7 linked regions of the Homo sapiens genome follow. The protein of the gene in region 4 purifies or fractionates together with the protein of the main gene of each other region. This does not show direct contact. Each region holds a gene or a part of one and is shown on either strand. Other genes may lie near its edges.

The links.
Region 1: the proteins of BTLA (region 4) and RPP30 purify together in Homo sapiens (affinity purification with mass spectrometry; one large-scale study listed by BioGRID and IntAct). This does not show direct contact.
Region 2: the proteins of BTLA (region 4) and CTBS purify together in Homo sapiens (affinity purification with mass spectrometry; one large-scale study listed by BioGRID and IntAct). This does not show direct contact.
Region 3: the proteins of BTLA (region 4) and DDX19B purify together in Homo sapiens (affinity purification with mass spectrometry; one large-scale study listed by BioGRID and IntAct). This does not show direct contact.
Region 5: the proteins of BTLA (region 4) and MTHFD2L purify together in Homo sapiens (affinity purification with mass spectrometry; one large-scale study listed by BioGRID and IntAct). This does not show direct contact.
Region 6: the proteins of BTLA (region 4) and ERVMER34-1 purify together in Homo sapiens (affinity purification with mass spectrometry; one large-scale study listed by BioGRID and IntAct). This does not show direct contact.
Region 7: the proteins of BTLA (region 4) and ARSK purify together in Homo sapiens (affinity purification with mass spectrometry; one large-scale study listed by BioGRID and IntAct). This does not show direct contact.

What each region holds. Positions count from the first base shown.
Region 1 is NC_000010.11:90,881,974-90,885,473, reverse strand, and holds part of RPP30 (ribonuclease P protein subunit p30), read right to left. Parts: intron 1-3,500. UniProt on the Homo sapiens protein: Component of ribonuclease P, a ribonucleoprotein complex that generates mature tRNA molecules by cleaving their 5'-ends. Also a component of the MRP ribonuclease complex, which cleaves pre-rRNA sequences.
Region 2 is NC_000001.11:84,550,441-84,553,940, forward strand, and holds part of CTBS (di-N-acetylchitobiase precursor), read right to left. Parts: 3' UTR 2,685-3,500; coding exon of another isoform or gene 2,595-2,684; 3' UTR 91-2,594; coding exon of another isoform or gene 1-90. Other genes in the region: SPATA1 (spermatogenesis-associated protein 1), read left to right, coding at 1-90, 2,595-2,684. UniProt on the Homo sapiens protein: Involved in the degradation of asparagine-linked glycoproteins. Hydrolyze of N-acetyl-beta-D-glucosamine (1-4)N-acetylglucosamine chitobiose core from the reducing end of the bond, it requires prior cleavage by glycosylasparaginase.
Region 3 is NC_000016.10:70,309,186-70,312,685, reverse strand, and holds part of DDX19B (ATP-dependent RNA helicase DDX19B), read right to left. Parts: intron 78-3,500; coding exon 29-77; intron 1-28. UniProt on the Homo sapiens protein: ATP-dependent RNA helicase involved in mRNA export from the nucleus.
Region 4 is NC_000003.12:112,478,973-112,482,472, reverse strand, and holds part of BTLA (B- and T-lymphocyte attenuator isoform 1 precursor), read left to right. Parts: intron 1-2,703; coding exon 2,704-3,018; intron 3,019-3,500. UniProt on the Homo sapiens protein: Inhibitory receptor on lymphocytes that negatively regulates antigen receptor signaling via PTPN6/SHP-1 and PTPN11/SHP-2. May interact in cis (on the same cell) or in trans (on other cells) with TNFRSF14.
Region 5 is NC_000004.12:74,199,618-74,203,117, forward strand, and holds part of MTHFD2L (bifunctional methylenetetrahydrofolate dehydrogenase/cyclohydrolase 2, mitochondrial), read left to right. Parts: intron 1-176; coding exon 177-329; intron 330-1,645; coding exon 1,646-1,753; intron 1,754-2,846; exon of another isoform or gene 2,847-3,016; intron 3,017-3,500. UniProt on the Homo sapiens protein: Bifunctional mitochondrial folate-interconverting enzyme that has both NAD/NADP-dependent methylenetetrahydrofolate dehydrogenase and methenyltetrahydrofolate cyclohydrolase activities.
Region 6 is NC_000004.12:52,742,053-52,745,239, reverse strand, and holds the end of ERVMER34-1 (endogenous retroviral envelope protein HEMO precursor), read left to right. Parts: coding exon 1-1,411; 3' UTR 1,412-2,687; downstream 2,688-3,187.
Region 7 is NC_000005.10:95,602,852-95,605,602, forward strand, and holds the end of ARSK (arylsulfatase K precursor), read left to right. Parts: intron 1-385; coding exon 386-675; 3' UTR 676-2,251; downstream 2,252-2,751. UniProt on the Homo sapiens protein: Catalyzes the hydrolysis of pseudosubstrates such as p-nitrocatechol sulfate and p-nitrophenyl sulfate. Catalyzes the hydrolysis of the 2-sulfate groups of the 2-O-sulfo-D-glucuronate residues of chondroitin sulfate, heparin and heparitin sulfate.

The sequences.
Region 1 (3,500 bases), on a different chromosome or scaffold from region 4:
GAAGAAACTGACTATTCTAAAACCCAAGGAAAAAATAAGCCAAATGGAATGTATGCATAGTCCATTTATCCCACACACTATTTATTGAGCAACTCTGTGCCAAGAATTGTCCCAGGGCTGTGGCTCCTATCAAGTCTACTGAGTAGCTAAAGAAATATGAACACAGCACCTCATGACATTTGTTCAAATACTAATAGAAGGAATCTACATAAATAGTTAAAGCAGAGCTACTACAAAGCAAATGATAATGAATGCATTTTCTCAACTTTTAATTTCCCTTTCTGTTGTTTTAATTTTTGCTATGACTTGTTGAGTAATACTCTGCATTTTCTTCTCAAAGAGATTTGAAACTGTTTATGAAAACCACATACAAGATAAAATAAACAGATAAGAAAATCAGGATAAATGGAAAATCAGGGAAGAAAAATAAAGCTGGGAAAAGGTTACTAGTGTAGAGGGCAAGCCAGAAGACACTGCTGGAAGAAACATACCTGGCTCTGATTTTGCCATTATTTGATTTATAGTGATAAAAATATTTGGCTGTTATGTATTACATTAAAAACAAAGCTTACTGACAATGCTAGTGTGTACAGGCTTGACAGACAAATTCAAACTTCCAGGATGGCTACGCTGACAAACAACATCAGTGGCATGTACCAGGGGAAAGGGCAGAGTAAGGAAGAGTGGAGAAAATGACCTATAGGATTGGTGCCAACCTTCGGCAATGACAGGAATACCGTATCTTGCCCTTTTTCTTCAGAATCCCCACTTCAGTCACTCCTACTCCAACCCCAGGGCTTTAGGAAGTAGAGATCAGAGGCTGGCTAGCTTTAAGACAGTCATAGTAACTTAGTAAGCCTGGGAAGCAATGTTGTTTTGGCAGAAATACTTGGCTCATAAAGAATCTGCCCCATCCCAACTGCCACAGCTGTCCAACTCATAAAAGAGTCACTGAAAATTTAATAAGAGTGGATGAAGAAAAGCTCTGAATGATAGCTGAAACAAATTCAGCTCTGTTCACCATTTTTTATCGATCATACTGGCAAAGATAAAAAAGTTTGGTACTACCTTGCTGACATGAGAATGAATGAACAGGCACTCAAAAGGTCTTTAAATCAGTATAAGGTCTTGAAAAGCATTTTAGCAATGGCTACCAAAATTTTAAATGCACACACCAACAATTCTACTTATAGGTATGTAGTAGGTATAAGTGGAGTCTCCTATAGAGAAGTCTCTATAAGTGCAGAGACTCTAAAAATATATTACGTAGCTATATACCCTACAAAGGCTCAGGGGACATTAGTACAATGACAGTCATTGCAATACCAATCATGAAAGACTAGACACAATTAAACATCCCTCAATTTTACTTCAATTATGATCCCTTTATATGATGGAATATGCCAACTCATTAAAGGAAATGATGTACATCTCTAATGGATATTATGGAACAACCTCTAAGAAACTGTAAGGTAAAAGAAGCATGGTGTTAGGTAGGAAGGAAAGAGGAAGGGAGAAAGGGGAGAACAAAGGAAAAAAAGACGAGGTAAATAATATTTCTAAAAAGATACACAAAAACTATTACTAGTGGTTGCTTCTGGAAAAAATGGGGAAGGAATTTTAGGTGGAAGTAAGGCATACTTTTCAGTACCTTTGTACTGTTTAAATTAATCATTGTGAATGTAAATTATTTCTTCAGTTTAAAAAGGTGATTAATTCTTTAAAAGCCTGTTAAACATTCTCCCCAGAATAAAGCTAAATTAGGTTACTTTTTACTTACACATTGTTCCTTTCTTCCCTTTTCCTACATAAGAGTGGCCAATTAAACAATGGCTCTATGTTGGTTTAAGTACGTGCAAATACATGCATTATAATAAACTTTTAGTTACAAGGGACAGCTCCACATGGCTCCCTCTGACACTTCAACCTTAGAATGCCCCAAACTGAATTATTTTGTTATTTAGTTTTCTATTAACCAAAATGTTCAATCAATACTTTTAGATAACCACAAAATAAAAGTTAATGTTCACACTACAATGAAACGCTTTCTATATCATTTTAGAAGATTAAATTATGCCCAATAGAGCCTTGGGGTTAAGAATCTTATAATGGTTTTCTCTGAAAACTAGTAGGTTACATAATAATTCACATCAGTTGTCCATACCAATTTTTTTTTTTTTTTTTGGCCAGAGACTCCTATGACAATTTAAAGAAAACGTATTCCCATAAAAATGCACACATATATACACATCTTTGCCTCTATGGCACAAAAGGAATAGGACTGTAGGGGTTCATATTCCTCCCTGAATCCCTTTCAAAGGTATCAGTTTGATAAATTGTGAAGAGACAATCAGGCTTACCAAGGAAAAAGAGAGATGCCCATCAACAGTGGCACTCAACTTTAATGTGTACAAAACTCCCCTAAAGAATGTATCAAAAATGGAGACAACCAGGCCCTACCTCCATTGATTCATTAAGTATGGCCTAATGATCTGCATTTTAATAAATATCCCAGGTAATTCTAAAGCCAGTGGAGCCAGACCATACTGCAAGTAACACCAGGACACTCCCTTCCTCAAGACACTACAACAGTCCTCTGCAAAGGAAAGGCATGAATTTCAGGAGCAGGAAGAAAATAAAACTTTTATTTCCATTTACTTTTATTTTTTAAAAATAGAGACAGGGTCTCACTATGTTGCCCAGGCTGGTCTTGAACTCCTGGCCTCAAGTGGTCATCCTGCCTCGGCCTCCCAAAGTCCTGGAATTACAGGCACAAGGCACTGGATCCAGCCTCCATTTACTTTTTTCTTTGAGACGGAGTCTTGCTCTGTCATCCAGGTTGCAGTGCTGTGGTGCAATCTTGGCTCACTGCAAGCTCCGTCTCCCGGGTTCACACCATTCTCCTGCCTCAGCCTCCTGAGTAGCTGGGACTACAGGTGCCCGCCACCATGCCTGGCTAATTTTTTGAATTTTTAGTGGAGTCGGGGTTTCACCGTGTTAGCCAGGATGGCCTCTCGTGATCTGCCTGCCTCGGCCTCCCAAAGTGCTAGGATTACAGGCGTGAGCCACCATGCCTGGCCCATTTAATTTTTAATTCACTATCTTAAGATCTGTTTTGTGTGTATGTAGTTTTTATAAGGCACACTGGTATAATGAGAGATGCGAATAATTTATAAGAAACATATATATATTTGGAAGCAGGCTCAAAAATTTTTTAAACTGATAGGGTGCACAATCAAAGCAGGTTAGAGACCACTGGACTAAATAACCTGAATTCTCCTCAACCTGCTCAGCTGCTTTAAATCCTAAATGGGAATAATTAATTGGTCCAGAAGCTCCAGAAGCTTCTATGCAACTCTCTCTCTGTGTCATATTCCACAGCTGTCCCCCATCCCAAGGAGCCCTAACCAATGGACCCCCTCAAAATCTTTAATCTCTGCCTTATCTCCTTAAGTAGCTATGGAGAGGGAGTTTCTATGAGACATCTTCCGGATACTCTG
Region 2 (3,500 bases), on a different chromosome or scaffold from region 4:
ATAATCCAGATCACTGAGGTACAGCATGCAATTGACCAGCTTAAGAGAAAACTAGATACTGACAAAATGAAACTCATAGTAGAAGTTAAGGTAATTTACATTTTTCCTAATCAGATTATTATAACATTTATCTTGAAATAAAATATTTTGGTGTTTTAACTTTGGGTGTCAATAATATAAGGGTAGCCAGGATTGACTGTATTAAAATTGTTACCTTAACAGTAAAGAGCATAGGTGAAAAAAAAAATGCAGGAAGAAAAACTAAACCTGTGAAAAGATACATGATATAATAAAGCCAAAGTAAAATTTAGTAAAATTTTACTAGGAAGAATTAAAGGAAAAGGAACCTGTGAGTCAATATATTCTCAAAAAAAATTTTAAGTAGTTTTCCTGTATTAGAATTATTAAGTCTGATAAACCACTGAGCTCTCCTCTGAACTGACATTTAATTTTTTATGGGTAATCGTTTCATTTTTTCTGGTTATTTTCATATGTATTCTATTATTTAAATATGAATAATGTGTCTTCTACTAGATGTTAAGTTTCCTTCCTGGCAGAGACTATGCCTTAGTTAACTTTGTTTCTCCCATGGGACCTTTTGTATAGCAGATGCTTAGTAGAGGCTTCTGGGCATGCTCTATTTGGTGAGAATTGTGTACAACTAATTACATCATAGAAATTATCTGTGAAGTACATATGTATTAAAAAGCTTTTTTGTTGAACAGAAAACAGAAGATTATACATTTTCATACAAGTACCCACAGCAAGGCAGGAAAATGAGAACGATAATTATATGAATGCTCTCATTTCTTTATCAGAAACAGCTTTATGACACAGAATAATGACTGCATTCTAGAATTAGCTCTTTTTAAAAAAATTTTAAAAAGAAAAAAGAAAATCAGTACTGTCCTCGGTTTCAGATAAAAATAAAAATAAATAAAATTTAAAAATAAAAAAATAGAATTAGCACTGTCCAACAGAACTTATGTGATGATAGAAATGTTCTATGCCTGCACTGTCAGATTGGTACCCACTAGCCACCTATTGATATTGAGCACTTGAAATGTAGTTTGTGTGACTGAGGAACTGAATTTTAAATTTTATTTAATTTTAGTTAATTTAAGTTTAGTAGTTACATATGGCAACTGGCTTCTACTATACTGGACAGTGCAGTTCTAGATTCTTTTTACAAGCAGCATTCTCGAGGCTAAATAAGCCCTGGTTTGGCACTGAGAAGCTTAAAACTTAAAATAGAAAAGGAAAAGAGCAGAGGATAATTTTTAACAAAATATCAGTTAAATATGCACTCAAAAAATAATTTGTTCAATGAAGGAAAACTGTCTATTCAATATATGGAGATAAAGCCAATATGTAAACTTGTACACTTAATAATTGGGTAGGTAGGAAGGAGTAATAAAAATGCCCCCAGAGGCTTGGATTATGACTCCCCTCATGCTGTTTTCTTCTGGAAAGCATGCACATTACTTGTAATCTTTGTATATTTTAACATTACAAATGTCACTCATGGTTTGAACTCAAATTAGAATTGTTCATACAAAAACAGTAAGGACAAGTGGAATAAGAGGAAAAAAAGAGAACAAAGTTTTCAGCTTATAGGCTGGGGGGAAAAAATCCTGTATTTAACCATAGTGCCTGATTGACACATAACAGACATTATTTAAGAAGTTTTATTGATTTCTGAATGATCTCCCCAAAACAGCACTACCTATAAGATTCAGAACTAAGGGACAAAAAAAACCCAGCCTGAGTCTCTTGCAACCATATTTATTCAAGATAGTATAGCATAAGTAGTGCTTCTCAAAGTTTAATATATCATCTGAGGATCCTGTTTAAAAATGCAGGATCTGACTCAGTAGGTCTGGGTGCAGCCTGAGATTCTTCCTACCTAACAAGCTCCCAACTGATGCTAATGCTGCTGTCCACAGACAACACTTGGAATAGTAAGGGCTCTGGTACCAGGTGGTTTGAATTTGAATCCTGGCTGTACCCACTTCACTTACTAGTTTTTTATCTTGAGCAAGTTACTTAGCCTCTAAAGGTCTCCATTTCAACTGTAAAATGGGGATAAATACTAGTATCTGATTCTGTAAAATTTTTGAAAAAAAAATAAGAGACTAATACACTTAGAAGAGTGCTTGCCACAGAGTAAACACTATATTTCTGAAATATCTATTCCGTTCCTAAGGGCTAGGAATTAAGGGTTTTTTTTGTATTTTGTTTTCTTGTTGTTTTCACTATTTTCTTTACACATTGAGAACAACAGGTTTTGAAGTTTAAGCAAAACATAAAATTCTTTCTCACTCTAGTTTTTAGAACAGTTCAATTGTATTGTCCCTATCTACTCATAAACAAGGTTACCTTATAGCATATCTCACCAGTAGATAAGCATGCTTATTAAACAGCATTCATAATCTACACATTTACTGTAGTAATCCAGTGGGAGTTGAAAGCACTGAAGCCAAATGAGAGAAGACAGTTAAAGCGGTTACAAAAACCCTGTTTACATGACAACTATGATGTACTTTTAGAAGGGTATGATGAAGTTCATTTTTGAAAAGTAATTCTTTTTATAGATGAGAAAACAAGCAGTTTCAGATTTACGAACATTGAAAACTGAACTGGCACAGAAAAAAAAAATAATACATCTCTACAATCTCAATTAGGTATGTTAATTTAAAACTTTTATTTGTAAAAAAATTTAAATATGTATTTGAACAGATTTGTTTAACCATTATTCTCCTTGGCAATGTTTTATAAAAAGCACAAGGTTTCTCTTTCTCCACTTTCCATGTGGGTATTACAAAATGTTTCAGGAAATATTAGATGTAATATAAAGCAAAATGATGAATGGTTATTTTTAACATTCCAAGTCCTTTACATATTATTTTACAGTGCTAATTTTATAATTTTCATTTTAATAATTTAATAATAAAATTCAATAATAATTTATTTAACAATTTAAGAGCTAATATAACTAAAATCTATTTGCAAAGAATAAATGTATATTAATGAATACTAATATATTTGCATGAAAATACAGACTTCATTTAACTTAATTTGTTCATTATATCTTAATTAAAAGAAATCTGGAAATATAAAAGAATGGGGGTATTGAAGTTGCATTCTGAGCTATGATAGAGATAAGCATCTAAGAATTTAAATTTTTTAATTCATTTATTTTAGAAATATGAAGACAACAGTGATCCAACATATACTATGAAAATGGTTTTTACTCTGTCACAAACAATTGTGTAAATAGGAAATGTAATATTCTCATAACAGATGGTTCAATCATCATGTATTCCAATTTACAGGGGCAAAATGTGCAGGGAAGCCAGGATTTATGTAAATCTAGAGTTCAAAGATACAGATTTTTAATCTGTAATTAGGAACTAATAAGGGCAGCACAATGTTGTTCTTAATTCCCTGGAGAAAGAAAACAGACTTTATTACATTTAGAAAACTTATTTGTATAAAAT
Region 3 (3,500 bases), on a different chromosome or scaffold from region 4:
GTTTTCAAACTAGCTATTAGTTACTTACCATTGGTATCTGGTTTGATTTTCTCTTCCTTAAGATGCAAGTTGCTCAACTAAATGGAGAATATGGGGGAGGGGGAAAGTGTCAGGAAAAGCACTTAAAAAGATTTGGAATCAACAGAGCCTCCCTAATGAAGCTGGGGATAAAATAGCCATTCTCAAGGTATATTCATTAGGACCAATTCATTGGGTTGTTCCGTTTACTAAATGTCTGATGAGAATAAACAAAATTTCCCGTAAATACATCGGTGGAAAAAAATGCTCCAAATCTGTACCTTCTACTTAAAATTCTGTGAGAGAATTGTAATTTGTGAGTTTGCTTAATGCCCTGATTATAAACTTTCTCTCTTTGTAGAATATCATTAGAGTTGTCATTCTCTCATATTTCTTTTGTGTGTGGGGGGGAATCGCTGCATTCCAAATCATATTTCAAACAAGAGGAAATTTAAAGAGATTTTGAAAAATGCAGTCATACTTTGGAGAACACTGGGAAGGGAGGACTGTGATGAAAAGCATCTGTAAAGCCAGGTGCGGTGGCTCGCGCCTGTAATCCCAACACTTTGGGAGGCTCAGGCAGGCAGATCACGAGGTCAAGAGATCGAGACCATCCTGGCCAACATGGTGAAACCCCGTCTCTACCAAAAATACAAAAATTAGCTGGGCGTGGCGGTGCATGCCTGTAGTGCCAGCTACTTGGGAGGCTGAGGCAGGAGAATCGCTTGAACCCAGGAGGCGGAGGTTGCAGTGAGCCAAGATCACGCCACTACACCCCAGCCTGGCAACAGAGTGAAACTCCGTCTCACAAAAAAAAAAAGAAAAGAAAAGAAAAGAAAAGCATCTGTGGGTAGGAATCAGTCATACTGCAGGATACGTTAGAGCCGTAAGACCACAGTATGCTGATGTGCAGCCTCACATTCAAGTCACCTTTTGCTGGTGTCTGATACTGTAGTTGGGAACAGCCTGAAGCATTGTGGCACACTGTGTAATTAAAATACCCACTGGGCTGAAGTGGAAATAGAAAGGAAAGAGACATTTCAAAGAATAATTACTAAGACTTTGATCAAATACTGTATATTAGGGATATCCTAGCAGGTCTTATCTCCTCTATTAGAATGCAAATACCTTCCTGACAGGGCCTATTTCGTTTTCTACTGCTCCTTGAGGAGCAGGGCTACCCCACAGGAAATGTGCCCAGAGTAGCATATTTCTATTTTTGGCCTTTGGATGTAGTACAGAGCAAAGTAAGTGCTCTAGTCGTAAATTTTTTGTTTGTTTGTTTTTTGAGACAGAGTCTTGCTCTGTCACCTGGACTGGAGTGTAGGGGCGCGATCTCAGCTCACTGCAAGCTCTGCCTTCCGGGTTCACGCCATTCTACTGCCTCAGCCTCCCGAGCAGCTGAGACTACAGGCGCCCGCCACCACGCCCGGCTAATTTTTTGTATTTTCTTTTTTTTTAAGAGATGGGGTTTCACGGTGTTAGCCAGGATGGTCTTGATCTCCTGACCTCGTGATCCGCCTGCCTCAGCCTCCCAAAGTGCTGGGATTACAGATATGAGCTGCCACGCCCGGCCTTTCTAGTCGTACATTTTTATTAAAAACAAAACAAAACAAAAAAGCCTTTTTTTTTTTTTTGAGACAGAGTCTCGCTCTGTTGCCCAGGCTGGAGTGCAGTGGCCTGATCTCAGCTCACTGTAAGCTCCGCCTCCCGGGTTCATGCCATTCTCCTGCCTCAGCCTCCGGAGTAGCTGGGACTACAGGCGTCCGCTACCACCCCCAGCTAATTTTTTTGTATTTTTAGTAGAGGCAGGGTTTCATCATGTTAGCCAGGATGTTCTCAATCTCCTGACCTCGTGATCTCCCTGCCTCGGCCTCCCAAAGTGCTGGGATTACAGGCATGAGCCACCGCACCTGGCCAAAAAAGACTTTTTTAAAGGTCAGAAAGCATCTGTAAGTCTTGGACCCCAGCACAGGGATTAGATAGATGGAAAGTCTGGCGTGAGTAAGTAACCTTTCAAGCTAAAGCCAACCCTAATCATAAAATATCAAGCAGGGCCTAAGACATCATCTAGTAAAAAGAAAATGAAAATCACAACCTAATGGTTCTTTCTTTTTTTTCTGCAGACGAGGTCTCACTCTGTTGGCCAGGCTGGAGTGGTGCAGTGGCATGATCATGGCTCATTGAAGCCTCAACCTCCTAAGGCTCAGGCAATCCTCCTGCCTTAGCCTCCCAAGTAGCTGAGACTACAGGCACTCACCACCATGTCCAGCTAATTTTTTTTTTTTGAGGCGGAGTCTTGCTCTGTTGCCAGGATGGAGTGCAGTGGTGTTATCTCAGATCACTGCAACCTCCGCCTCCTGGGTTCAAACGATTCTCCTGCTTCAGCCTCCCAAGTAGCTGAGACTACAGGCATGCACCACCATGCCCAGCTAATTTTTGTATTTTTAATAGAGACAGGGTTTCACCACATTGGCCAGGATGGTCTCAATCTCTTGACCTCATGATCCGCCCACCTTGGCCTCCTAAAGTGCTGGGATTACAGGCATGAGCCACTGCGCCCAGCCTGCCCAGCTAATCTTTTATTGTAGAGTTGGGATCTTACTGTGTTGCTCAGGCTGGTCTTGAGCTCCTGGGCTCAAGCGATCCTCCTGCCTCAGCCTCCCAAAGTGCTAGAATTATAAGTGTGAACTACGCATTAGGCCGCATTTCTGTTGTCCCTCTAAGTCCAAGAACAGGCGAAAGGGGAAGGAGGGTAGAGAGGAGAGAACAAAAAAATGTTTTAATTGGTGGTTTGTTGAGAATGGAGGAGCCCCATTTCTATTTCTCTTTTTTTTTTTTTTTTTTTTTGAGACGGAGTCTTGCCCTGTCGCCCAGGCTAGAATGCAGTGGTACGATCTTGGCTCACTGCAACCTCCGCCTCCTGGGTTCAAGCAATTCTCCTACCCCAGCCTCCCAAGTAGCTGGGATTACAGGCGTGTGCAACTACGCACAGCTAATTTTTGAATTTTTAGTAGAGACGGGGTTTCACTATGTTGGTCAGGCTGGTCTCGAACTCTCGACCTCGTGATCCACCCGCCTCGGCCTCCCAAAGTGCTGGGATTACAGGCGTAAGCCACTGCACCCAGCCAGGAGCCCCATTTCTTTTTGTTTGTTTGTTTGTTTTGTTTTTTGAGATGGAGTCTCGCTCTGTCGCCCAGGCTGAAGTGCAGTGGCGTGATCTTGGCTCACTGCAAGCTCTGCCTCCCAGGTTCACGCCATTCTCCTGCCTCAGCCTCCGGAGTAGCTGGGACTACAGGCGCCTGCCACCATGCCCGACTAACTTTTTATATTTTTAGTAGAGACGGGGTTTCACCGTGTTAGCCAGGATGGTCTCGATCTCCTGACCTCGTGATCTGCCCGCCTCGGCCTCCCGAAGTGCTGGGATTACAGGCATAAGCCACCGCGCCCAGCCTCCCATTTCTATTCATGGAAATGGACAA
Region 4 (3,500 bases):
AAATAAGGTGAAACCTTGTTCTGGATAGACATGTATGAGAAACTCAGGGTCAAAATTTGCTCCTTGGTTCAACATCTGACAAGCTGTGTGATCACAGGCAAGGCCTTTAGCTGTCTTTGTATTTAAAAGAGAGTTTTGGCTATCATCTCTGTTACACTTATGTCATTCTAATGTATGATACTGTACATCTATTCAGAAGAATGCATGAAAATGAGTGAAATAAATAAATGAAGGAGATGAACTAGACATTGCTAAGAGAGACGGTAGTTCAAAACATAGAAAGAAAGGCTAAGAAAGAACTGTAAGAGTGGAGAAAAAAATAATTTAAAAGAAAATACTTTTAGGATCACGTGCTTAGCCTTAACTTTACTGGAAAATAAAAAAATACAAATCAACACCAAGTGCATAACTAAAAGGAAATGAGAAACAAGCCATTGGAAACTGGAGTAAAGGCCATTCTTGTCATACAGTTGCTAAGAACTTGGTGGAAATGTATCTATGTCTTAGGACTTTACGGAAAGCAGAAATTAAGAGCAATAATTCAGGATATCTGGTGGAAGAAATATCTAAGCCGCAAAGCATTTAGGCTGCTGTGTGGCTACTTTTAACTGCATACAGTAAGAGGCAGGAGGGAAAAAAATGACTTAAAAATGGAATTTATAATTAAAAGAGAAGCAGAATAGAAAGATTTGGAAAATTCACTGCCTAGCCATATAAAAAGTGAAAAGGCATGAATGGGAGAAAATACTAAGGGTGTGGCCTAGTGACCATTGTTAAAGAGATTAATATGGATAGAAGGGAGTGAAGTACTATTCAAGAAGTTGAGAAAAAGGCCCTGAAGGCATTTCAAAGCCTTTGAGGCTGCCCCTCCCATCATAGGCTCAGAGCTCAGAGGGCAAATTGATTTCAGGGGAAACTAGAATGCCCTTTACAGGCTTGCTGCCCAGATCTGCCTCAGGTTTCTGTTCTCTGAATTCCAGCACAGTGCTCCTTAGCTGCTCCAGCCATGGCTCAAGTGAGCCCAGGTGCAGTTCAACCCACCACTCCATAAGGTGCAATTGGTAAGCCTTGGTGGCACCCACTTGCTAAGTGTGCAGGCTAGCAGAATGCAAGAGGTGTGGAACACAACTTCCTCCATGTAGATTTCAAAGGATGTTGTGGACAGCCTGAGGGCCCAGGAAGAGTCCACTCCCATGTCAGTGCCTAGTAGAGCCATGGGAGTGGACTGCCACTGAGACCCCAGAACTGTGGAGCTATTAGCCTGAAGCATTAGCCTGGGAGAGCTGCAGGTAGGAGTCTCCAACTTGTGAGTGCTGAAGCATCAACCAAGCCCAGCAATGCCATTTTATTTCTCTGTTGGGTTTTGGACTTACTTAGGAACTGTTACTTTCTCATTTTTGCCTATTTCTCCCTTTTGGAATGGGAATATCTATCTTATATCTGTCCTACCACTATATTTTGGAAGTAGATAACTTGTTTTGATTTACATGATCATAGTTGGAGGGAATTTGCTTCATAATGAATCGTGCCTTGAATCTTACCCATATCTGGTTTAGATAAGACTCTGAATTTAGTGTTTTGAATTGATTCTGCAATAAATTAAAACTTTTGGGGCTATTGAGATGGAATGAATGTATTTTGTATGTGAAAAGAACATGAGTTTTGGGGGACCAGGGGCAGAATGCTATGGTTTGAATGCCCCCTCCAAAATTCATGTTGAAATTTTATTGCTATTGTAACAGTTTTGTGAGGTGGAACCTTTAAGAGATCAGAGGTTATGAATGTATTAATGCCCTTATTGTAGGAATGGATTCGTTATCACGGGAGTAGGCACCTGATAAAAGGATAAATTTTGGCCCCCATTTTTCTCTGTCTTGTGTGCTCCCTTCCACTTTCTGCTTTCTGCCATGAGATAATGCAGCACAAAGGCCTTTGCTAGATGCTGGCACCATGCTCTTGGACTTCCCAGCCTACAGAGCCATGAGCCAAATAAAACTTCTGTGATTCAAAAATTATCCAATCTCAGGTATTCTGTTATACTAGCAGAAAACAGACTAAGACAGTGTCTCATGTGTCCGTGTGTAGAGACCACCAAACAGGCTTTGTGTGAGCAACAAGGCTGTTTATTTCACCTTGCAGGCGGGCTGAGTCCAAAAAGAGAGTCAGCAAATGATGGTGAGATTATCATTAGTACTTATAGGTTTTGGGATAGGCAGTGGAGTTAAGAGCAATGTTTTGGGGGCAGGGGGTGGATCTCACAAAATACATTCTCAAGGGTGGGGAGAATTACAAAGAAACTTCTTAAGGGTGGGGGAGATTACAAAGTACATTGATCAGTTAGGGTGGGGAAGAAACAAATCACAATGGTGGAATGTCATCAGTTAAGGCTATTTTCACTTCTTTTGTGGATCTTCAGTTGCTTCAGGCCATCTGGATGTATACGTGCAGGTCACAGGGTATATGATGGCTTAGCTTGGGCTCAAAGGCCTGACAGACAGAGGATTAAATGATTTATTTCATTTTTTAAACATATTTATTATATGCCTAATATGTATGAGACATTCTGCTAGTAAGGCTTAATTACTAGAAATTGGGGGGTTGTTTTTGAAAATTACCAAATAATGCTTGAGAACTATTGAAGTCACATATATATGGTACTTCCAGAAGAACATATTTGATTTTAGTTTTGTTTTTATCTTTTAGGGAAAGAATCATGTGATGTACAGCTTTATATAAAGAGACAATCTGAACACTCCATCTTAGCAGGAGATCCCTTTGAACTAGAATGCCCTGTGAAATACTGTGCTAACAGGCCTCATGTGACTTGGTGCAAGCTCAATGGAACAACATGTGTAAAACTTGAAGATAGACAAACAAGTTGGAAGGAAGAGAAGAACATTTCATTTTTCATTCTACATTTTGAACCAGTGCTTCCTAATGACAATGGGTCATACCGCTGTTCTGCAAATTTTCAGTCTAATCTCATTGAAAGCCACTCAACAACTCTTTATGTGACAGGTGAGTTCTCAACACCTAGACCATCTGATATTTTTCTTATAATGTTTCCAGGAAGAGGGGGGTTCAGTTTCTCAAGTGATTATGTTAGAAAGCCAACTCCTATAGCACATCTGAAATCTGCTACACCTCACAGATTGTTATGTGCCAGTGTGTACATATGTGTGTGTATGTGTGCGTTTGAGGTGAGTGAGATAGAGGAGAGTAGAGAAATAGATAGTAAAAGTTATTGTTTTTGACTTTAGGGATTATAAAATTTATTTGATAAGTCCAAAAGTAGACCACTGAAATATTGAAAAAATTATAAAGTGAATACCTATAGTTGCGAATAGCTCTGTGATTGCTTGTCCTTCTTTGTTGTTTTTTTTTTCTCTTTTTCCCATTTTTCTCTTCTTTACTTTTGTTCATTACAATTTCTTGAAGTTATGTTTGTGGTGCTTAGGCAATTAAACACTTCTTAATAGTTCACAGTTTGTTTAGAGGAA
Region 5 (3,500 bases), on a different chromosome or scaffold from region 4:
AGAGCACTTTGGCTTACTATTTTGGTGGCAAATAATAATAATAATAATAATAATGACTTTACACCTTTTTTAGAGCCGAATTATAAGTGATGTGGCTTTAGATTCTCAGATTTCATTTTTCAGGCTACCAAATAAATAACAATTTTAAAATTAGACAAATTTTATTTATTTTTCAGACCACGTTGATGAGCGAACAATATGCAATGGAATTGCCCCAGAAAAAGATGTAGATGGATTTCATATTATCAATATTGGAAGATTGTGCCTTGATCAGCATTCTCTCATACCTGCCACTGCCAGTGCTGTTTGGGAAATAATAAAAAGAACAGGTTGGTAATTTGTGGTCTGCAGGACATGGATGCTAGGTGCTGAGCTGAGCCTTTGTGCACTGAGACTTGATGGGACTACCTCAGTCCTATAGAGTGACAGAAAATCATAATCCATAAAACGTCAGTGTACAGAGAGATATAAAATTGTAGAAGTCAAAACATAATACAATCCTGGCTAACACAGTAAAACCCTGTCTCTACTAAAAATACAAAAAATTAGCCAGGTGTGGTGGCGGGCACCTGTAGTCCCAGCTACCTCGGAGGCTGAGGAAGGAGAATGGCATGAACCTGGGAGGCGGAGCTTGCAGTGAGCCGAGATCATGCCACTGCACTTCAGCCTGGGCGACAGAGCAAGACTCTGTCTCAAAAACAAAACAAAACAAACAAAACAAACAGAAAAAAAAATCCAAAATAAAATGAAACGAAGAGCATTAGCCAGATTATAGATAACTGCAGTTGCAACTTATAGGAAGTGAATTTTCCACATAGTAGTGGTATATGTCGGCCTTTAAAATGTAAACTTCATGCATTTTGATGAAAACTTTTCTAAAATATATTTTTCTGTACCTTTAAAAATATGTTCTGATCACATAGTTATCATTTCTATTGGCTTGGGTTTTAATTTTAAACATTTACCCTTGTACTGTACTGGATACGGTAATGCTCTCACAGACTCTTACAAAAGAAGTTTTCTTTCTGAGAAAGAAAAACTTCCAAGGGAAAACAGATCCTAGAATCATACTCCTACACTGTTAGTATTGGAAAATCCTTAGTTCTAACTTCTTTGCTTTACTTATGAAGAAACTGAGTCCAAAAGAAGTAGAAGGTTCTACAGGCTTTATTTTTTTACATCTTTCTAAGTCTGTAAGTTTAGTGCTTCTTTCCTATGGAGTAAAATGCATGAGCTTTGTGAAAAATGCCTCTTTTCTTACTTGTTTTGTTCCAGCGTTGCTCAAAATTTGATTGCCAATTAAGTTCGACATTGTTGTACTTTGCTTTTTTTATAAGCAGTTAATATATGTTAAAACTCTACTCTTCTAACTCTTAATGTGACTCTCAATGTTTAAAAGCAACTTAATGTCAACTTAAGAATGTCTGTGGTTTTTAATGAGTACATAATCAGAGAAGAAGTGACAAATCAAAGAAGCATAAAATGAATTATTTATAAATAATGAATGTGCTCATATTATAGATAAGCCACATAATAATTCAGATTTAATTAGAAATTTTTAAAAGAATGTTTCAGTTGGCTGTACAAATGTTTAATTTACTTCTTGTTGTCAATTCTGCATTTAAACCGAACTCTGTATTTTAAGGAATTCAAACATTTGGAAAAAATGTGGTTGTGGCTGGAAGATCCAAGAACGTAGGGATGCCTATTGCCATGCTTTTACACACTGATGGAGAGCATGAACGGCCAGGAGGTAGGTAGAACCTTGCAGATTCTACACTCTCTCGCAGTATTCTTACTTCTTACATCATCAAGTAAACACTTTTGATAATGCAGCTTATTATATTTGTGGGTTTATGCAGTTCAAAGTCTCCTTTATTCCTCATTTAGTGATGTGAGAGTCTTGAAAGTGACTGTAGGAATTACTGAAAATATGTGGCCATTTTCTCTATTTTTTTTTTTTTTGGCTATATGCACTTTGTTTAAATAATTAACAATTAGACATTAAGAAAGGTGCAAAGCTACTAGATACAAAAGATTCACATGCCCTCAGGAAATACAAAACAAGACATCTCTTGGATGTAGAATTCCTGTAGTGGCAAGGTCTTAGCACTTTAGAAATCAGCTAGTTAGTTTATTTTACAGACAAGAAAGCTGAGGCTTAGAGTTGTTATCTGATTATATAGGTTAAACAAATAGTCATTGTCCTATGAGTAGTAGTGACACTCCAAGTCACTGACAAAGCCCAGGAAGATGTGTTAGCCTTAGAGAACATGCAGCCATTCCAGGTGTTGGTCATCTGAACATCATCCCAAGACCTTGGTTTCTTCAGCAGTCTAATAGCTAGATACAGAATAGCTCCCCAGAAATTTGCAGGGGTCTGTCCCACAGACCCTGACCCAACGATGGATGAATAAAGTACACTGACACACAGATATTCTGCTTTACCAGTCCAGCTGAGCATCTGGGCCGCTTACAGACTCCACGCACAGTGCTGTAAACAGTTGCGACTATGGTCTCAATCAGTCAGCAAGACTTATGTTTATTCAGTAAAGATTAATTGACAAAGGCTTGGGTCAACACCACTAGAGTGTAATTGACATTGTGGACTTCCCAAGTAGAAAGCAATTAAGCACCCATGGTAGATCAAAGGTTAGTCTTAGGACCACACGAGTAAACAAGCTAGTTAGGTAAACTCTCCACATTCCTTTATTTCTACTCTAGTTTATTTAACTAAAGATAAGGGGACTAGGCTGCCTTCAGACTGATTTATTACTGAAGTTATGCAAACCCTCAGACCTTCCAACAAGGTTTGTGGCTATTAAAACTAAAATTTTTCCCACCAGCCTGACTGAACCACCACAGAAATGGAAATGGAGATGGAATGAAAAGGAAATACAGCAAAGGGGTGATGGGGCATTGTTCGTGGTTGTCTGAGCCAGTGCTGTGGGAGGAGGGCACAAGGGTTATTCAGCGTATCACTGTCTGCTAAATTCTGCATCTTGTTCTAATCTAGGTAAAACACCAAGTTTTCATGTTCTTAATAGAAGTAGTTATTGGTTTATCTATGTGTTAGAGACGTGTTGTACTTTGTTTACCATTTATTACTTCTAATCTTTCTCCCCCTAATTTTTGATACAGTACTTCATTGGTTTCTCTAATTCCAAAGAAGAGGATGGGCTACTTTGCTGCTTGCTTTCTAATATTTAACCAGAATGATAGACACCTATGTGCTCATCATGTACAGCACACGCACACATGCACACATGCATGCACACACACAGCATATATATATAGATTTCTTATTATTAACCTTGTTGAATTCGAGTTTCCTGATCTCAAACTTTCAATAATACTTGTTTTAGGATCTTGATTGACATGATACTTATGACATAATTTTTAAAACACAAAGCTCTATGGAAAAATAATCCCAGTATTAACTTATCTAAAATGATGAATGATGACACTTTTGAATAATATTTTCCCTTTCTATGCCTAAA
Region 6 (3,187 bases), on a different chromosome or scaffold from region 4:
CTATCGTAAAGTGACTTGGCACTGGGAAGCCTCCATGGAAGCTCAAGGTCTATCCTTTGCTCAAGTAAGGTTATTGGAGGGAAATTTTTCTCTTTGCGTAGAAAATAAAAATGGCAGTGGACCCTTCCTAGGTAATATACCTAAACAATACTGTAATCAAATACTATGGTTTGATTCTACAGATGGCACCTTCATGCCCTCTATAGATGTTACAAATGAATCCAGGAACGATGATGATGATACAAGTGTTTGCCTAGGCACTAGACAATGTTCCTGGTTTGCAGGTTGCACAAACCGGACCTGGAACAGCTCAGCTGTTCCCTTGATTGGTCTGCCCAATACCCAAGACTACAAATGGGTAGATCGAAATTCTGGATTGACCTGGTCAGGTAATGACACCTGTCTCTATAGCTGCCAAAACCAAACCAAAGGCCTTCTGTACCAGCTATTTCGCAACCTATTTTGCTCTTATGGCCTGACAGAGGCACATGGGAAATGGAGATGTGCAGATGCCAGCATAACTAATGACAAAGGTCATGATGGACACCGGACCCCCACCTGGTGGCTCACAGGTTCCAATCTGACCTTGTCTGTGAACAACTCTGGCCTCTTTTTTTTGTGCGGCAATGGGGTGTACAAAGGGTTTCCACCTAAATGGTCTGGGCGATGTGGACTTGGGTATCTTGTACCTTCCCTCACCAGATACCTCACCTTAAATGCTAGCCAAATTACAAACCTGAGATCCTTCATTCATAAAGTAACACCGCATAGATGCACCCAAGGAGACACAGACAATCCACCTCTGTATTGCAACCCCAAGGACAATTCAACAATAAGGGCCCTTTTTCCAAGTTTGGGAACTTATGATTTAGAAAAGGCAATTCTAAACATTTCCAAAGCAATGGAACAGGAATTCAGTGCCACTAAGCAGACCTTGGAAGCACACCAATCAAAAGTTAGCAGTTTAGCCTCTGCATCCCGAAAGGATCATGTCTTGGATATACCGACCACCCAACGACAAACGGCTTGTGGAACTGTTGGCAAACAGTGTTGCCTCTATATAAATTATTCGGAAGAAATAAAGTCTAATATACAGCGTCTCCACGAAGCATCCGAGAACCTGAAGAATGTACCGTTACTTGATTGGCAAGGCATATTTGCAAAAGTGGGAGACTGGTTCAGATCATGGGGCTATGTGCTTTTAATTGTTCTTTTCTGCTTATTCATCTTTGTTTTAATCTATGTTCGTGTCTTTCGCAAATCTCGCAGATCCCTTAACTCCCAACCTCTGAACCTAGCCTTATCTCCACAGCAATCAGCACAGCTCCTTGTCAGTGAAACTTCATGTCAAGTTTCAAATAGGGCAATGAAGGGACTAACAACCCATCAATATGACACAAGTCTACTTTGAGAATATCTGAACAAACAGCAGCTGCAGACAAAAAGCCTTAGCTAAACTTTGATGAGTAAAGCAGGTCTTACCGAGAATTCAGCTGCCAAAACCCTCCTCTGAGTGTTCCTCTTATAAGGGCACTTAGCACTAGGACCTCCCAAGGTATTGTAAATAAGCCTTATCAGAACTTTTTGTAGTTTCATTCTGAAGCCTTAAGACACACACCATAAAGCTGATCTGTAAACCCTTACCCCTTGCTGTTCAGAGAGCTACTCTTTGTAGTGTTCTTGCATGCATATATAATAAATGTTTTTTCTATTGATCTGTTAATTTGCAAGCCCCCAAACACTGGAACTAAGTTGGGGGCAGGATAGTTTCTCCCAACAGCACTTTGTAGGCTTCTGGATAGACCAAAGAGTGTGTTTGAATAGATAAGGGAATTTTGTTCCCTTGATTTTGGTTGAAGGTAGAAGAATCCAATGTACACATACACAAAACTATGTCCTTAAATTTGTCTCAAAGAATAAATATTGGGTAGTCATCAGAATTGACTGAAAACTTACTTTAGGGAGAAAGCCACAAATAATTTAGGCTGGTATGATCTGAGCTTTCCTGATTTCCCATGGGCATTTTAGTGGTCTAATGGAATATTAGTCTGATATGCATTTTAGCCATCTTATGAAATGGGCCGCAGGTGGAAGTAGGATGCAGGGAGTGTTGAGGTGGCATCTATTATATCAAATGCTTCACTCTGCCCAGTCCTCTGGTGAGTTCCTTACATGCATCTTTCTAGTTAATCCTCTCGGTGTTCATATTTTACAGATTAATCAACTCAAAGGGTAGATAGCTTGCTAAAGATTATACTATTACTGAAAAATAGCAAGATGCAGAACAGCATACCTAGTATGTTACTCTTTTTTTTTTTTTTTTGAGGCAGAGTCTGGCCCTTTCACCCAGGCTGGAGTGCAGTGGCTCAATCTCGGCTCACTGCAACCTCTGCCCCCTTGGGTTCATGCCATTCTCCTGCCTCCCTCCTGAGTAGCTGGGACTACAGGCGCCTGCCACCACGCCTGACTAATTTTTTGTGTTTTTAGTAGAGACGGGGTTTCACCGTGTTAGCCAGGATGGTCTCAGTCTCCTGACCTCATGACCCGCCCACCTCAACCTCCCAAAGTCCTAGGATTATAGGTGTGAGCCACTGCACCCAGCCTCGTATGTTACTTTTTATTTTAAAAAAGGGGAAATGATATGTATATGTGTATGTATTTGCAAATAAAACAGGAAAAGCCATTCACAATTGAAAGTGATTCACATGTAAGAGGAATGGACTGTGAGATTCTCACCTCCTTTTTAAGGTTGCACATAAACAAATTTATGAACATAGCAGATTGATAATTTATTAACAGAATAATCATTTCAAGTTACATTAAGAAAACATGGATGGCTGGGCACGGTGGCTCACGCCTGTAATCCCAGCACTTTGGGAGGCCAAGGTGGGCAGATCACGAGGTCAAGAGATCAAGACCATCCTGGCCAACATGGTGAAACCCCATCTCTACCAAAAGTACAAAAATTAGCTGGGCATGGTGGCAGGCACCTGTAGTCCCAGCCACTCAGGAGGCTGAGGCAGGAGGATCGCTTGAACCCAGGAAGCGGAGGTTGCGGTGAGCTGAGATCGCACCACTGTATTCCAGCCTGGCAACAGAGTGAGATTCTGTGGCAAAAAAAAAAAAAAAAAAAAAAAAAAGCACAGACTGGGTGTGGTGGCTCATGCCTGTAATTCCAGCACTTTGC
Region 7 (2,751 bases), on a different chromosome or scaffold from region 4:
AAAGTTTGAGGCTGTTAAAATGGTACAGTATAAGCATTACTGTATTCATTTCTGCCTGTCAAAGTAGGCAGGACATCAAAAACAGGAAGAACTTGTTCTAAACCAGCTTACTAATGATAAAAGTTTGACTTTTTCTGGCATTTAAGAAAAGAAAAAAAAAGTGGGATAGCTGGACAATGGTAGGAAGGAGGGAATTTGGGCATGCAACATAGGGTGTTTAACTCCTGGTATGTTATTTTACCATTTATACTGTCCTTCATTTTACTACACTAACAGGAACTGAAAATCTAAAAAAAAAATCTAATACATTACCTGTCATAATGACATTCTAAAAAAATTTTTAGCAGGTCACTATTTTGACAGATACTTATTTTTTTTCTTTCAGATCTTTCCTCGGATCCAGATGAATTAACAAATGTTGCTGTAAAATTTCCAGAAATTACTTATTCTTTGGATCAGAAGCTTCATTCCATTATAAACTACCCTAAAGTTTCTGCTTCTGTCCACCAGTATAATAAAGAGCAGTTTATCAAGTGGAAACAAAGTATAGGACAGAATTATTCAAACGTTATAGCAAATCTTAGGTGGCACCAAGACTGGCAGAAGGAACCAAGGAAGTATGAAAATGCAATTGATCAGTGGCTTAAAACCCATATGAATCCAAGAGCAGTTTGAACAAAAAGTTTAAAAATAGTGTTCTAGAGATACATATAAATATATTACAAGATCATAATTATGTATTTTAAATGAAACAGTTTTAATAATTACCAAGTTTTGGCCGGGCACAGTGGCTCACACCTGTAATCCCAGGACTTTGGGAGGCTGAGGAAAGCAGATCACAAGGTCAAGAGATTGAGACCATCCTGGCCAACATGGTGAAACCCTGTCTCTACTAAAAATACAAAAATTAGCTGGGCGCGGTGGTGCACACCTATAGTCTCAGCTACTCAGAGGCTGAGGCAGGAGGATCGCTTGAACCCGGGAGGCAGCAGTTGCAGTGAGCTGAGATTGCGCCACTGTACTCCAGCCTGGCAACAGAGTGAGACTGTGTCGCAAAAAAATAAAAATAAAATAATAATAATTACCAATTTTTCATTATTTTGTAAGAATGTAGTGTATTTTAAGATAAAATGCCAATGATTATAAAATCACATATTTTCAAAAATGGTTATTATTTAGGCCTTTGTACAATTTCTAACAATTTAGTGGAAGTATCAAAAGAATTGAAGCAAATACTGTAACAGTTATGTTCCTTTAAATAATAGAGAATATAAAATATTGTAATAATATGTATCATAAAATAGTTGTATGTGAGCATTTGATGGTGCTCGATGAGTTACTTGTATTTGATGGGATTGTTTGGATGTATTTAATGGGAGTATTTGGAGTATTTAACGGGATGTAAACCCTGGATGTACCTGATTTTGTTACTGTTTTATTTTAATAGGTAATATATATACAGGGTAAAAGCTTCAAATGGTACAAAAGGGTTAACAGTGATCGTGAAGTCTCTGTCCTTTCCCTCTTCCCTGCCATCCAGTTCCCCCTCCAAGAAGCAAGTACCGAAACCACCTGCTTACGCATTTTTAGAGATTGGCCACAAATTTATAAACAAATGTATATATTCCTTTCCCCCTACACAAACGGTAACATACTGCACACATTGTTCTGCATGTTGCTTCTTTTTCCTTTTTTTTTTCACTTAACAGTAGATATCTAGAGGTGAAATTACTGAGTCAAGACTATATTTAGCAAAATTACACTAGATACTACAAATTACCTCTAAAGAAGGTATACTAACTGATAATCTCACCATCAATGCATGTCTTCTTATCCTTTGCCAACCTAACAGATAAAAATGTTCTATTTTTATTTTTCTTTTTATGAGTAACGTAGAGCATATTTTCATGTATTTAACAGCCACTGGAATCTGCTTTACCATGGCCTTTCCTATTTCTATTCTTTGCCTATTTTTCTGTTGGTTGTTGGTCTTTGTTTTGTATTACAGGTGTGCTTTAGATATTAGCTTTTTGTAAGAGATCCTGCAAATATCTTCTTTCCAGTTTGTCATTGTCATTTGTCTTTTGACTTTGTTCTGGTATTTTTTGATATGTAGAAATTTTTATTTTCATGTAAGCAAATTTATGAATCTTTGTACACCATAAGTATATACAATTATGATTTGTCAATTAAAAATATTAGTACAAAATTTACAGATCTTTGCTTTTGTGGCTTTTGGGATTTTGTATCATATTTAGAATGGCCTTCTCCACTTGTCATTTTTTTTTTTGAGACGGAGTCTCGCTCTGTCACCCAGACTGGAGTGCAATGGTGCAATCCCGGTTTCAAGTGATTCTCCTGCCTCAGCCTCCCAAGTAGCTGGATTACAGGCACCCGCCACCACACCCAGCTAATTTTTTGTATTTTTAGTAGAGATGGGGTTTCACCGTGTTAGCCAGGATGGTCTTGATCTCCTGACCTGGTGATCTGCCCACCTAGGCCTCCCAAAGTGCTGGGATTACAGGCGTGAGCCACTGCGCCTGGCCTCCACTTGTCTTCTTTTATAATTTTATTTTTCACCTTTGGATCTTTGACCCAGCTGGAATGTATTAAACATATTAGAAATCTAACTTTGGTTGTTTTTTTAAATATGCCTACCCATTGATCTTTTATTGAGTAAACTGTCTCTTCTCCCATTCGTAAAAATGTCACTTCATCATATAATACCTTTGGTTGAGTACATTATCTTTT